Linked DNA regions of Homo sapiens: regions 2 and 3 are each linked to region 1. Evidence: fine-mapped expression QTL. A gene starts in region 1. Each other region holds a variant in brackets. All regions are shown on one strand. Distances are from middle to middle. Region 1 holds the start of CASC8 (cancer susceptibility 8). Region 2 overlaps CASC21 (cancer susceptibility 21). Region 3 overlaps CASC8 (cancer susceptibility 8).

Evidence for each region. PIP is the estimated chance that this variant, and not a neighbour inherited with it, causes the effect. A credible set is the group of variants that fine-mapping cannot tell apart.
Region 2: its variant is the best candidate, but not a certain one, in a credible set for the expression of CASC8 in iPS cells (HipSci, PIP 0.71).
Region 3: its variant is the best candidate, but not a certain one, in a credible set for the expression of CASC8 in transverse colon (GTEx, PIP 0.57).

Annotation. Positions count from the first base shown.
Region 1 is chr8:127,479,741-127,483,985 of GRCh38, reverse strand. It overlaps CASC8 (cancer susceptibility 8), which reads left to right and starts at 1,847. Exons shown (of 6, transcript NR_117100.1): 1 at 1,847-2,352; 2 at 2,915-3,258; 3 at 4,180-4,245.
Region 2 is chr8:127,307,414-127,311,658 of GRCh38, reverse strand. All of the region lies in intron 1 of CASC21 (cancer susceptibility 21), which reads right to left. The region is part of intron 5 of CASC8 (cancer susceptibility 8); the gene reads left to right. Among named protein-coding and RNA genes, the nearest start is that of CASC21, 65 kb to the right of the region's middle. RefSeq lists an enhancer at 3,930-3,979. The variant T/A (reference allele first, on the strand shown) is at 2,406.
Region 3 is chr8:127,441,047-127,445,291 of GRCh38, reverse strand. The region is part of intron 4 of CASC8 (cancer susceptibility 8); the gene reads left to right. Among named protein-coding and RNA genes, the nearest start is that of POU5F1B, 27 kb to the right of the region's middle. The variant G/A (reference allele first, on the strand shown) is at 2,092.

The DNA.
Region 1 (4,245 bases):
CTCCTGCTTTTGTGATATTTGAATTCTAGTGAGTGGACACAGACAGACTACAAAGCATAAATGTTATAAAGTGGTGAGGGGTGGTTGCTATAGACAAAAAAGTATAAGGGAGTGTAGGGGATATCAGGAGTTCTGGGGGATGATGGGATTGCAATTTCAAATGCAGAGGTTAAGATAGACCTCATTGAAAAGGTGACATTAGAGCAAAGGCTTGATGTCTATGTGAAGAGCATTCTGGACACATGGAGCAGCTGGTGCAGAGGACTGAAAGTGGAACATGGGTTGATTGTGGCTTAGCAATGAGGGGCAGTGCAGACAGAGGTGCAAAGAGGCATCAGGGGGGCCTAGTCATGAGAGGCTCTGCAGGTCATGGTTGGAATTAGATCTGGTGCTGTCCCTCTATGTTGTGGTCAGCAAGATGATTTCACCAGCAGCTTATTCAATATGCTTTCTAAGAAAATCATCATTTAACCAGTTAGTGTGGATTCTCCTGGCCAAATCCTAGTGTGCAAATATGCTGGAAACATTCAATCTTGTTTCCAGCAAGGCTTGGGATAATTTAGAAACTGTTCAATCAACTCAGTAAATATGAATTAAACATTTACAGTTGTATTAAATATTCGAAAGATAGGAACCAAAACAGTCTATCAAGTAATTGTACATATTTGTGCATTTACAAAATGCATATTCATGAGAGCTATGTAAATATATATTTAGTCATTTCCTCTTTCATGTGAAGTGCTATGGCTGAACTACAGATGGTAACTTTCTTGTGTCTGATTATGAAAATGGCACAGTAAAGCATTCTGACATTGTCCTTAGAAAAAGATCATTGTTTGGCCATTACCATGAGTTCAGTGTTCTTGGAACTAGGGAGAAGAAAGTTCTAGAACATGTCTGTTTTTGTGGCAGGCATCTAGGGAGGAAAGGCAGTTATTTCTAAGATACGTGGCTCTCATACTTTTTCCACCAAGGGTCACAAAAAGGAGGAGGTTTATGTGTAGGACATGCTGAAGTCCTGTGGGCTCTGTATTCCAGCCACAGTGCCACCCTTTCTTTCTCTGTCAGGAAAGCATAGTGGGAGGGTAGGGAGTGAGCATAATGACATTTTGGGTTAATATTTAATTCATTCTAATTTATTCAAAAACGTGTCTAACTTCTCATGATATCTATTAATACTAACATGACTGGCAACCCCTCACAACTGCCTCTGACAACTCTTGTGGGTCCTTCTGCCACATCTAAGGACTCTCTGGATAAGGAGATGGTGAGAGAACACACATTCTAATTTTGTCTTTGTGTGAAGGTCTTATGTGAAAATCTTTCTGGGAATTAGAGTTTTCTAAAGGAATCTCTATTTCCTAAGGTCCTGATACTCTTACTAGCATTTGCCAGTTAATTCTGTGAGACCCAAATGTGTGCAGGGCCTGGACACTTTATCTCATACTAGGTCTCTTCCTTAACCATCCACTATTCCCCAAATATTTACACAGGTGGACTGCGTAGTTAGACTGATATTTGTGTCAGCCTTGAAAACTCAGGATGACTCTCGAAGCCGACTGCTCATGAAGTATCGTTGCTTGGATCTCCTCTTTTGGAGACTAAGGGAGCTTGACTGTGTGCAAGTTAGCAATAAGGACTGACTACTGGATTAGGTGGACCACGTGAATATCATCTTGTGGTGGCCTTTTGGGATCTTCTGATCTCACTCAGAGTAAAAGCCAAAGTCCTCACTATGACCTAGAAAACGCTTTGTGATCTGTGCCCCCAGGTCTATGACTTCACCTCTAACTAATCCCCCTCACTTGCTTAACCTCCTTCCTCAATGGCCTCTCTGCTAGCTCCTTGAACCACCCCAGGCCCTTTGCACCTGCTATTCCCTCTCCTCAGCATGCTCTGCCCCAGACAATTGCAATGCTAACTTCTTACTTCCTTCAGGTTTCACTCAGAAATGACTTTCTCAGTGGGGTCTCCCATGACCATTTTATTTAAGATTTCAACTACTTTGCCAGTATTTCACTTCTCCTCCCTTGATCTTTTCTTCCAAGCACTCACTGCCCTCTTGCACACTGTATCTTTTACTTATTTATCTTGTTCAGTTTCTGCCTGCCTCACCTGCCTCACCACAGTGTACATTTCACGAGGGCAGGGATTTTGTCTGTTTTGTTGATTGCTGTAGCCCTGGCATCTTGGGCAGTGCCAGCACCTGTTAGCATTAAATACATATTTACTGAATGAATGAGTGGCTTCATGCTTAAAAGCAAGAAGAGAGACCTTCATAGAGAAGTAGGAAAATGAATTGTTGCACAAATAAAGGGCCATGTAATGAGAGAGAGAGAGCAAGAGAAAGAGGTGAGATGCTGATAGATTTTCCAAAAACATTCCAGTTCCTACTTCCCATCTTTCATGAACCAAGATTTTTACTTCCTATCCATGGGCTATCCCTAAAAATTCCATTTTCTTAGGCTACTGTAATAGGGCTTGTCTTTATTGCTACCAAAAATCTCTAAGCAAAAAAAAAAAAAAATAGAGTCAAACTAGAAGATGCTAATTGTTTTCTCAACATCCAGCATGTCTTTGGAGAATGGGGTTCTCATGTAGCAAACAGTTTTGTGGGTTCTCTTCCGTGTTTCCTTTCTTGGATAACTAGGTCACAGACAGCTGGTGTTTCCCATGTGGCAAAGGGAGCATGCAGAGAAATCCCCGCCTCCTCTCTCTTTGCTTTTCAAGCCCTGCTGAATGCCTCCTAATGATTTCATCTGCTCGGAGGTCTGCTGGCTTTTCCACTCTCGTAGAAGCTGGTGGCGCCGGGGGCTGATGCATGCTCTGACTACTGACTTGAAACATGCTTTGATGAATTAGTGCAACTCGGCCAGCCATTTACTTTAAATTTTACCCTTGATTCTTCCTCTAGCAAACAATTAAGGAGCAGCAGTGGCTTCCTGCAGGGGAGACCAATGCCTTCTGTCCTCAGCGGAAACAGCTTGGCATTCTTCCAATTGATGAATGGCATGGACCAGGAGCACTAGTTATCTTCAGCTTCTGAGCATCCGAATAAATAAACATACAAATGCATAACATAAAATAAATTCAAATTACAAATGAGAAAACCAATCTAGGTTACCGGCAAGTCCTATGACTTGATGTGGAGGCCTGGAAGTGCATCCTTGAATCTTGCAATGCAGTGAGCCAAGGAGCAATGAGAGGCCACATGAATAACCGGGCCAGTGACAAGACACATGTCCTCCTCCTTGCTGGGTGAGTAGCCCAGTCCAACCCCAAAAGCTCCTGAGTAAGAGGAAAATGTCTCTTTAACAGTATTAAGGGATAATTTATTATGTGTATCCTTCCAGGGAAGCACAATGTCAGTAAAGGCCCATTGCATTTGCATTATTTCCAGACAACAGCAGCAGCAGAAAGGGACACTGATTTATTTCAGAGCAAGCACAGGTGAATGTAGTGTCTGTTGGGAATGAGCCAGGGAGCACTTAACCCGTTCTGAGTCTTTCTAATGCTTTAGGGGGAACCATAGGTTTTTGGAATAGTTCTATTGGCTTCTTTGGTCAAATTCAGTGTCCCTGAGCCTGTGCTTCTCAATCGCTTGGTAATAAAAGCTCTTACAGGGTGGAGGTCAGCGAAAAAAATATGTTTAAAAACAGAAAATCTGGTTTTATGCCGTGGCCACGTTAATTTCTTTCCGTGTGACCTGGGCAAATAATTTAATCCTTTTACGACTCAGTTATCTCTTTTGAAAAATGAGTGTAATAATGCTCCCTGCAGGATTTTAATGAAAATCAACTAAGCAAATGTATTAATGAGTGACATATAATGAATTGTATAAATGACATTGTTTTGGTGTGACATCAATTTGGGATTCCTGGGACACAAACAGAAGTTTAGGTATTATCTTCAGGTATGGTGTCTTGGCTAGCTTAGCTAGCAGAGAGCTTTTTTCTCAGAGGAATCATTCAGTGGGAGGTAAAACAGTCACTCTTTGAATTCTGGAATTAGAGAGTTATGAAATTCAAAAGGTCATGGTAGAAAGTGTCTTGGAGACATCTCTTCCGAGCTTCTGTTTTGGCAGAGGGAAAAACTGAAGCTTAGGGAAGCAAAGTAAACTGTAAACATCTCGGAGGGTGAGGTCAATCTTAATTATCTTTGGTTGTTGTTTCTTATCAGTATACACCAGAATGCCCCGCATGCAGCGAATGCTCAAAAAGTGTTGGTGGAAGTGACAGAATTCCA
Region 2 (4,245 bases), 170 kb after region 1:
CAGAAATCACCCATTTTCCGCGTCGCTCACGCTGGGAGCTGTAGACCGGAGCTGTTCCTATTTGGCCATCTTGGCTCCTCCCCGGCATTTTTCTTACTTTTTATTTAGGACCAGTTTGTTGTCTTGCGACCTCAGTTCTCTGATTAGTTTAAATAAATAAATAAATAAATAAAAATAAAGAGCTGTGAATCTGCAGATTCTTTAGCATTATTTTCTAGTACTTCTAGGAGTGCTACTCTTTCCTGCTTTCTATATCCTAAGTAGAAGCCAAAAGTCTTTCACATTTTTTTTTCCTATTTATTGAGGTATAATTGATAAACAAATATTGTATATATTTAAGGTGCATAGCTTGATGTCTTGATACACATATACATTTTGAAATAAACACTATAATCAAGGTGATTAATATATCCACCATTTCATCAACATGAGATAACTATTTACCATTTTCTGTTCTCTCTTTTTTTTTCTGGTGGTAAAAACAGTTATCTATCCTCTTAGCAATTTGCACAGCATTCTTTGTGATGGAGTCACAGACACTAAATGGAAGGTTTCCATTGAGCTTTCTTTCTATCATTCAAGGAATTTAATTTAATAAACGCTTCTGGCCACGTAAGACCCCCCAGATCTTGCCTTCAGGCAGCTCATAGTCTGCTGGGAGGAACAAATACAGCAACAGATAATTTTTGAATAGCAAGTAAGTGCTAAAATAAAGGTAATCTATGCTAACAAATAAAGGGGATAAACGGATCACTGCTTGGGTAAAAAACACTTAGATTTTATAGGGGAGATGACACTTGCATTAGTTCTCAAAACAAAAATATTTTACCAGCATAGAAAGCAGGGTAGAACCTTCTAAAAAGAAGAAACATCATATTTTGAGTAGTGGATTTAGCATAATTTGTCTGAACAAATTTATATGGGTAGAACAATATTATGCTCCACTTACAGACCCTGTTGTTAACAGTTTGGTGTAAGGACATTCAAACTTTTCCCCCGGCATATATATTTATTTATTTGTGTAAAATGAAATAATATAGTGTATTCTGAAAGATCTGATAACTGCTTAATAATCAATGATGCTGAATAATTCACATTTTCTCTTGTTTTAACATTTCACTTATTTTTATTTATTTTGCTTTTGTAAATGATTGTTATAAATGTCTTTTAGGTGCAGTACATATTTTTTTCATTGCTTTTGGATTATTTTATTGCATGTATTTATATAAGGGAGTTTCTGAATTAAAGACTACTGACATTTCCAAGACTTTGGTACATGCTACCAAATTGCTTTTCAAAGTGGTACCTCCAATATTTGCCTTCTCAGTAGTTTATGAAAGTGCCCATCTCATCACATACTCACAGGAATACTGTATTCGCATTAAAAAAAACTTGGCTAATTTGGTAGCTAAAAATGGCATTTTATTAACATTTAGAAGTTTGTATTATTTGAATATAAGTAGGTCTCATAACTTGAAATATTTCTATTAACCATTTTGCTTCCTCTTTTGTAAATCCTCCTTTTATGCCCTTTGCCCATTTATATATTGGAAAATCTGGTTTTTCGTCTCTCTTTGAGAGTTGTAGATGATTGTATTATATTTATTGGCTCTAAATATTAGGAAATCTTCCTTTTAAAACCTAGAGCAGGAGCGCCTAAATCTGACTGCTCAAAAATGCCTTTGGAGCTCTAAAAATTTATACATTCTTGGGCCCGACCTGATTCAGTAGTTCTAGTGCAAAGCTCAGGAATCTGCATAAAACTTTCAGAGAATTCTGATATGTTAGCTCAGTTGAGGAACCTCTACTCTTGTCTCCCATAGTCCAGTTACCCTGTTTTGTTGTCATATTTAGCCTTGTAGGGTGTGCGCTTCACCTGACAGTAAGCTGGTGAAGGCTGTGTTGCAGAGGATGAGCCTGGAGAACACTGGCTTTTCAGTTGGCTGATGTTTAAATTCCAACTTTGGTGCTTGCTAGGAGGTGGGACTAGGGCATCTTGGCTGTTTCATTTTCCTCATCTTTAAATGGGGAGAATAATATTTTCTATAATTACCACTTTACTACTAAATCAAGGCTACCAGTTACTAAATTTTTGTAATGGTTCTAGGATAAGATAGTAAGGGTCTGAAAGAGAAGGAAAGAACAGAGCCATTAGATGAAAGAATGGAAAGGTTATGCTGTCCTCTCCTCACTTTTATTGAATGCTGACTGTCGTAGGTCTTATGAGTAGCGGTAACACTATATTATCTCATTTATTCTTTATATCAGCCCTGAGACAGGTTCTATGCCCATTTCCAATGAAGAAACTGACATAACAGGGAGAATGAAGTTATCATTTACCAATACAAGGAAGACTCTAGAAAAATCAGGTTTGGGGATGAAGATCAGAAGCTCCATTTTGTGCA[T/A]GTTAAGTTTGAGATATATGTTCATCATCAAATGGAGATATTAAAGAAGACAGTTGCATTACGACTGTAGAGTTTAAGGGAGAGATCCGGGCTAAAAGTATAAATTTGGAAGTCATCAGCACATTGGTGTTAGTAAATACAATGGGAAGAATGAACTCTCGGCACAAGCACCAGGTGAGTACAGGCGGAAAAGAGGAGTGGGGCCAAGACCTGAGCTGTGGTCTTGGTGCTGAGAGATTAGGAAGACTGGGAGCAACTGGCAAAGAAGATTGATAAGAATTGGTGAGTGAGGAAGGAGGAAATTTAGGAGAGGGTGGCATCTTGGAAGCCAAGTGAAGAAAGAATACCTACTTGATAAGTATTTTGAAATGAATTAATGATGTATCTAGGCAAAATCCAAATTCAGATCTCTTTGACCCAGGAGACTATACATTCTTTTTTTCTATTATTATTTTTTGAGACAGAATTTCACTCTTGTTGCCCAAGCTGGAGTGCAACGGTGCAATCTCAGTTCACTGCAACGTCTGCCTCCCAGGTTCAAGTGATTCCCCTGCCTCAGCCTCCCAAGTTGCTGGGATTACAGGTGCTACGGGCACGTGCCACCACGCCCAGCTAATTTTTTGTATTTTTAGTAGAAACAGGGTTTCATCATGTTAGCCAGGCTAATCTCAAACTCCTGACCTCAGGTGATCTACCTGCCTCGGCCTCCCAAAGTGCTGGGATTACAGGTGTGAGCCACCATGCCCAGGCTATATCTACTATTTATTGTCCCAGGGGCTGACAAACTGTTTTTTAGAAGATACAGTTAATTAATATTGTAGACTTTGTGAGCCAACAGGCAAAATTGAGGCTATCACTCAGTGCTTGTATAAGCATTTAAAATGTATTCACTAGACTAGCCTAAAAAAATAAAATAAAATAAAATGTAACCACTTCAAAATTTAAAAATTATTCTTAGCTCAAGAGCCATAAAACAAAACAAAACAAAAAACCAGGCTGCTGGCCCATGGCCGCAGTTTGCCTCCCTCTTCCCTACATATTATTCACTTTGATTCTGGAAATATTTATTACTAAAATGATAATACTCAAGCATCACCATCTTAATCAGCTATCTCAGTCTCACATAAAATTCCACAATAACCCAAATGGACTTATTTCACCAGTAGCATAATTTAACGTTTTTTCTTATATAAAGGTGGCCTGTATCTAATCCAGCAATTTTATTTCTCCCAAGACACTATTTCTTGTTCCATTTTGCTTAGCTACATAGTTGGCAAAGAAATGGAGCATGGAAGCAAGCACAGAATTTGCATGAGTGTATTTGTCATAGGCTGTGGCCCCTAAAGTGAGTTTCTAACCTGAGAGTGTGACAGAGAGAAAGGGTATTTCCCTCTCTTGTTTTCTTTCTGAATGTCATCCTCAGAAACCTCAACTAAGTCACATTTATTCTCCCCAGGGTCATACCAAAGGGTGTCATTATGATTCATTCCTCCAGCATATGAACTCTGCCCACAGAAGCAGTTTTTAGAAAGATAAAGTTCAAACTTAGTACTATTGACTTCTATTTTTCTTAACTTGATTTCTATCAAAAACCAGTTCAATGACCTAAAGTCATTTACTCTCCTCTTCTGCAGTGCCTTCTGTCTATGCTTTCCACATCCCTCCCCAATCCCCTAAATCTGAAAACTGAGGAATATACTCACACATAGAGCTTCCAAGATCCCTGGGCCATTTTTGTTTCCTCAATGCTACTCTCCCCTAAACTGTTCCACAAGGACAAATAGACTCATTGGGAAAACAGTAACTGCACACATTTCTCATTCACCTCTCAGGACACGTG
Region 3 (4,245 bases), 39 kb after region 1:
ACTCTGAGCCTGTTATGAGAGTGGCGGCTTCCAAGATCTTTGAAATGACTTTGGTGTCATTCTTCCATTGTCTTAATGGAATAGCATCTGGCTTCCTTCTAGGTATGCTAATTTATTTGTCAAAGAGTCACTTGGCCTCACCCTTAGGATTATTCTCTCCAAAACAGTACCTTTCCATTCTTTACATGGCTGGGCTGAGAATTGTCCAACGCTTTAAGTTCTGCTTCCCTTTTGATTATAAGCTGTGTCTTTAAGTTGTTTCTCCCTTCTCGTCTTTTCCTATAAACAGTCATGCAGCACTCTCAACACTTTGTTTACAGATTTCTTCTGCCAAATATCCCAGTATATCACTTATAACTTCTGCCTTTCACAAAACATTAGAACATGGGCACCATTTGCCAAGTTCTCTGCCAACTTATAACAAAGATGACGTTTCCTCCGGTTTCCAATGCCTTGTTCTTCATTTCCACCTAAGACCTCATCAAGATGGCCTTCACTGTCTGTATCTCCATGAATACTGTGTTTACAACCACTTAGTCTCTAGGATAATTTAGGTTCTCTCTGCAGCTGTTTTCATTTGAGCCCTCACCAGAATTACTTTAATACTCTGTTAATGAAAATACAGGCTATTTCTTTAGTCTGATTCTGCAAACTCTTCCAGTCTCTACACATTACCCAATTTCAAGCCACTTCCACATTTTTCAGGTATTTGTTATAGGAACACCCCACTTCTTGGTACCAATTTCTGTCTTAGTTATCTGTGCTGCTATAATAAAATATCAGAGACTGGATAATTTATAAACAGTACACATTTATTGTCCACAGTTATACGGTCTGGGAAGTCCAAGATTAGAGCACCAGTATATTCTGTGTATTCTGTGTCTGGTGAAAGCTACTCTTTCCTTCCAAGACAGAGCTTTCTTACTGTGCCCTCATTGCAGTGGAAGGGGACAAAAAAGGATGAACTCTGTGTACTCACATAAGAGAAGAGGTAGGACAGAAGGGCCTAGCTAGTTCCCTCTGGTCTTTTTATAAGGTTGCTAATCTCATCTATAAGGGCAGAGTCCTCATGGCCTAATCACACTCAAAAGGCCTCACCTTTTACTAGTGTTGTGTAAGTTTCAAAATGAATTTTGGAGGGGCACATACATTCAAACCATAGCACTTTATATCAGGCACTACATTATAGACTAAAGATAAGATTGTGTATGAGGCTTAGACTCTTCTCTCAAGGAGCTCATAACCAATCATGGGCTATAAATAAATTAACTAACAATCTTAATATCATGATAAGCATTATATTGAGGAAGCTTTGGAAACTATTGAAATGAACTTTTTGGCATCTTATGAAGCTCTTGTGAAGTAACCATGAAGCAGAGAGCTGAAGGATGATTAGAGTTAGGTAAATGGTAAATGGGTAGATGAGGTAAAAATCAGTTAGTCTAGGTTATGCTACGCTGTGTAACAAACAGCTCTCAGAACTTGAGATCATAATAAGATTTATTTCTTCCGTATTCCATGTCTGTTATGGGTAATTTGGGAGAGTGTTACTTTGTGTTTCTTCATGCCAGGACCCAGGCTGATAGGGCCGCTACCATTTGGAAAGTGACAAGAGGAAGAGAGAGAATGAAACAACAGTAAGCACTGGCTCTCAGCTTCTACCTGAAGAGACAAACATTGCTTTCACTTACATTTCACTGGCCAAATCAAGCCCATGGCAACAATTGAGTTCAAAAGCATAAGGAGGTATCTGGAAGGAAGAGAATCAGAAAATTTCTGATGAGCCTCACTGACTACCTTCAGGGCAAAAAGGAAGAGAGGCACTCCAGATCAGAGATCTGCATTGGAAACTCCTTGAGAACCAGAAGGGTATGCTGTATTTTTGTAACTGTGAGGAGCCCAGAAAGACTGAAGCCCAAATAAAATTCCTTTATTCAATATTAATTAACGTATTTGTTAATTATTAATAAATTTAACTTAATGGCCAGACACGGTGGCTCACATCTGTAATCCCAGCACTTTGGGAGGCCAAGGTGGGCGGATCATGAGGTCAGGAGATCGAGACCATCCTGGTTAACACGGCGAAACCCC[G/A]TCTCTACTAAAAATACAAAAAATTAGCCGGGTGTGGTGGCGGGCGCCTGTAGTCCCAGCTACTTGGGAGGCTGAGGTAGGAGAATGGCTTGAACCAGGGAGGCGGAGCTTGCAGAGAGCTGAGATTGAGCCACTGCACTACAGCCTGGGTGACAGAGCAAGACTCCATCTCAAAAACATAAAAATAAAAAATAAATAAAATAAATACATTTAACTTAATTATTCTGAGCATTCAGTTATACAGTCTGTCATCTCCGTCCCACCAATACCTAGCACTATGCTTGCCAAATAATTGTTGCAACCAAATTACTGAAACTAAACCATGGTTGATTACATCTGAGTCCCCAGATTGAGGTCTTGCCTTTTTACGGTGAGGCCAAAATTTTCACACAGGCCTTTTTTCCATCCCAGTGCTTACCCAAGTCAGGGAAAAAGGCATTTACTTTCTTGGCCAGTCAGGGTGGTGGAACATTATTATTTATTTAAAACCCATTACCTACAAACCTTTTGCATGGAACCAATTAAGAAATCTCTTAAAGAAAAAGATAATATTATGCTTGGTGTAACACAGTTTTTGAGGGCCTTTTTAATGTGTTAGGAAGCCCCATAGGTCTTGACAATTTTTTTTATGTCTCCCTTTTAAAAGCAAGGCTGCTGCCAGGGAATTTGGACTCTGGTGGTAAGTGCTGGTTGTGGTTTTCCTCAGAATAAAATTATGGGCATGTTGAAGGTGGGGTGAGGCAGAGAGTGGGAAAACGCAGGGAATGTGGGCACTTATGTCGGTTAAGGTGTCAAATTTTACATGTCTGGGTTTTGTTTCCACCAGGCTCCACTCTCTGAAATCACCATTCTGTTATATATGCTTACTGGAAGGGCTGGCTCTGTTTCAAAGAAATCTCTCTGAAATGGGGACATCAGAATGTAAAAGTTGATGAGATGTTGGAAGGGCCAGTTTTAGATGGAGGCAGCAAAGGTGCTGTAATTTGAAAGGGCAGTATGAAAAACAACCCTTCCTGAGAATCAACAGCCTGGAGTTAGAGCCCCAGAAAACAGTGGTGAGCATTTGGTCGTCCACTGTGTCATCTTGGGATGTCTCTAGCCTTTGCTTTCTCAGTAGCAGGCTGGATTCTATAACCTTTAAGGCTGTAAACTGTCTTTTGCATATAACCTGTCCTGAGTCTAAGATCCCTCTCTTGGATATCTTAGTGTCACCATTCTTACACTGGAGATTCATTCCTGTGGATTATGTTCTCAATTTTTGTTTTATTTTTGGAGATGGAGTCTCGCTGTTGTTGCCCAGGGTGGAGTGCAATGGCATGATCTCAGCTCACTGCAACCTCCGCCTCCCAGGTTCCAGTAATTCTCCTGGCTCAGCCTCCCGAGTAGCTGAGATTATAGGTGCCCACAACCATACCTGGCTAATTTGTGTATTTTTAGTTGTTGCTTTTAGAGAGAGTAGAATGTATTTCTAGGCTTTCCACAGCAGAGCTCCATGAAAAGATGTTTAAGTTCTGACTAGAGGGGAATAGAGAGAGTGGTCAAGCACATGTGCACACACAGCCTGTGACTGGCCAACTGCTCCTTCGGTTTCCAGAATTTTTAAAACATCTGCCAAAATGCAGGTGTCATCCCATTCCTCCCTGTCTTTCTAGTTCTTTTAAGCATGTTTTCTATCATGAATAGGACACTGTACCAAAGACAGGAGATACAATGCAACTCATTCCCACCTATTCAGAAGCTTACAGCCAGAAGAAGAGATGAGAATGTGCAATGACTAGCACAACATAGTGATATTGTGACAGCATTTTTCAGTTCTGCATTATACTATGAATTATTGCATAACACTATGCAATAGTACTATTATTTAAGTTCTGCAACTACTATGCAATATTGCATAGTAGTTTTAAGTTCTGGAGCCTGCCTGTGTTCAGAATCCAGCTCTCCCGTTTGCTAGCTGTCAGACCTTGGGCAAGGTACTATGACTTATTTTTGTCATCTGTAAAATGAGGAAACTAATATTACCTGACTCAGAGGCGTTGGGGGGAAAAAAAAATATATATATATATAGCCTGACACAGGGCCCTTAATAAATACTAGTATACTCTCAATAAATAAAACAGTGTGCCTTCAATAAATATTAGTTAACATTTATTT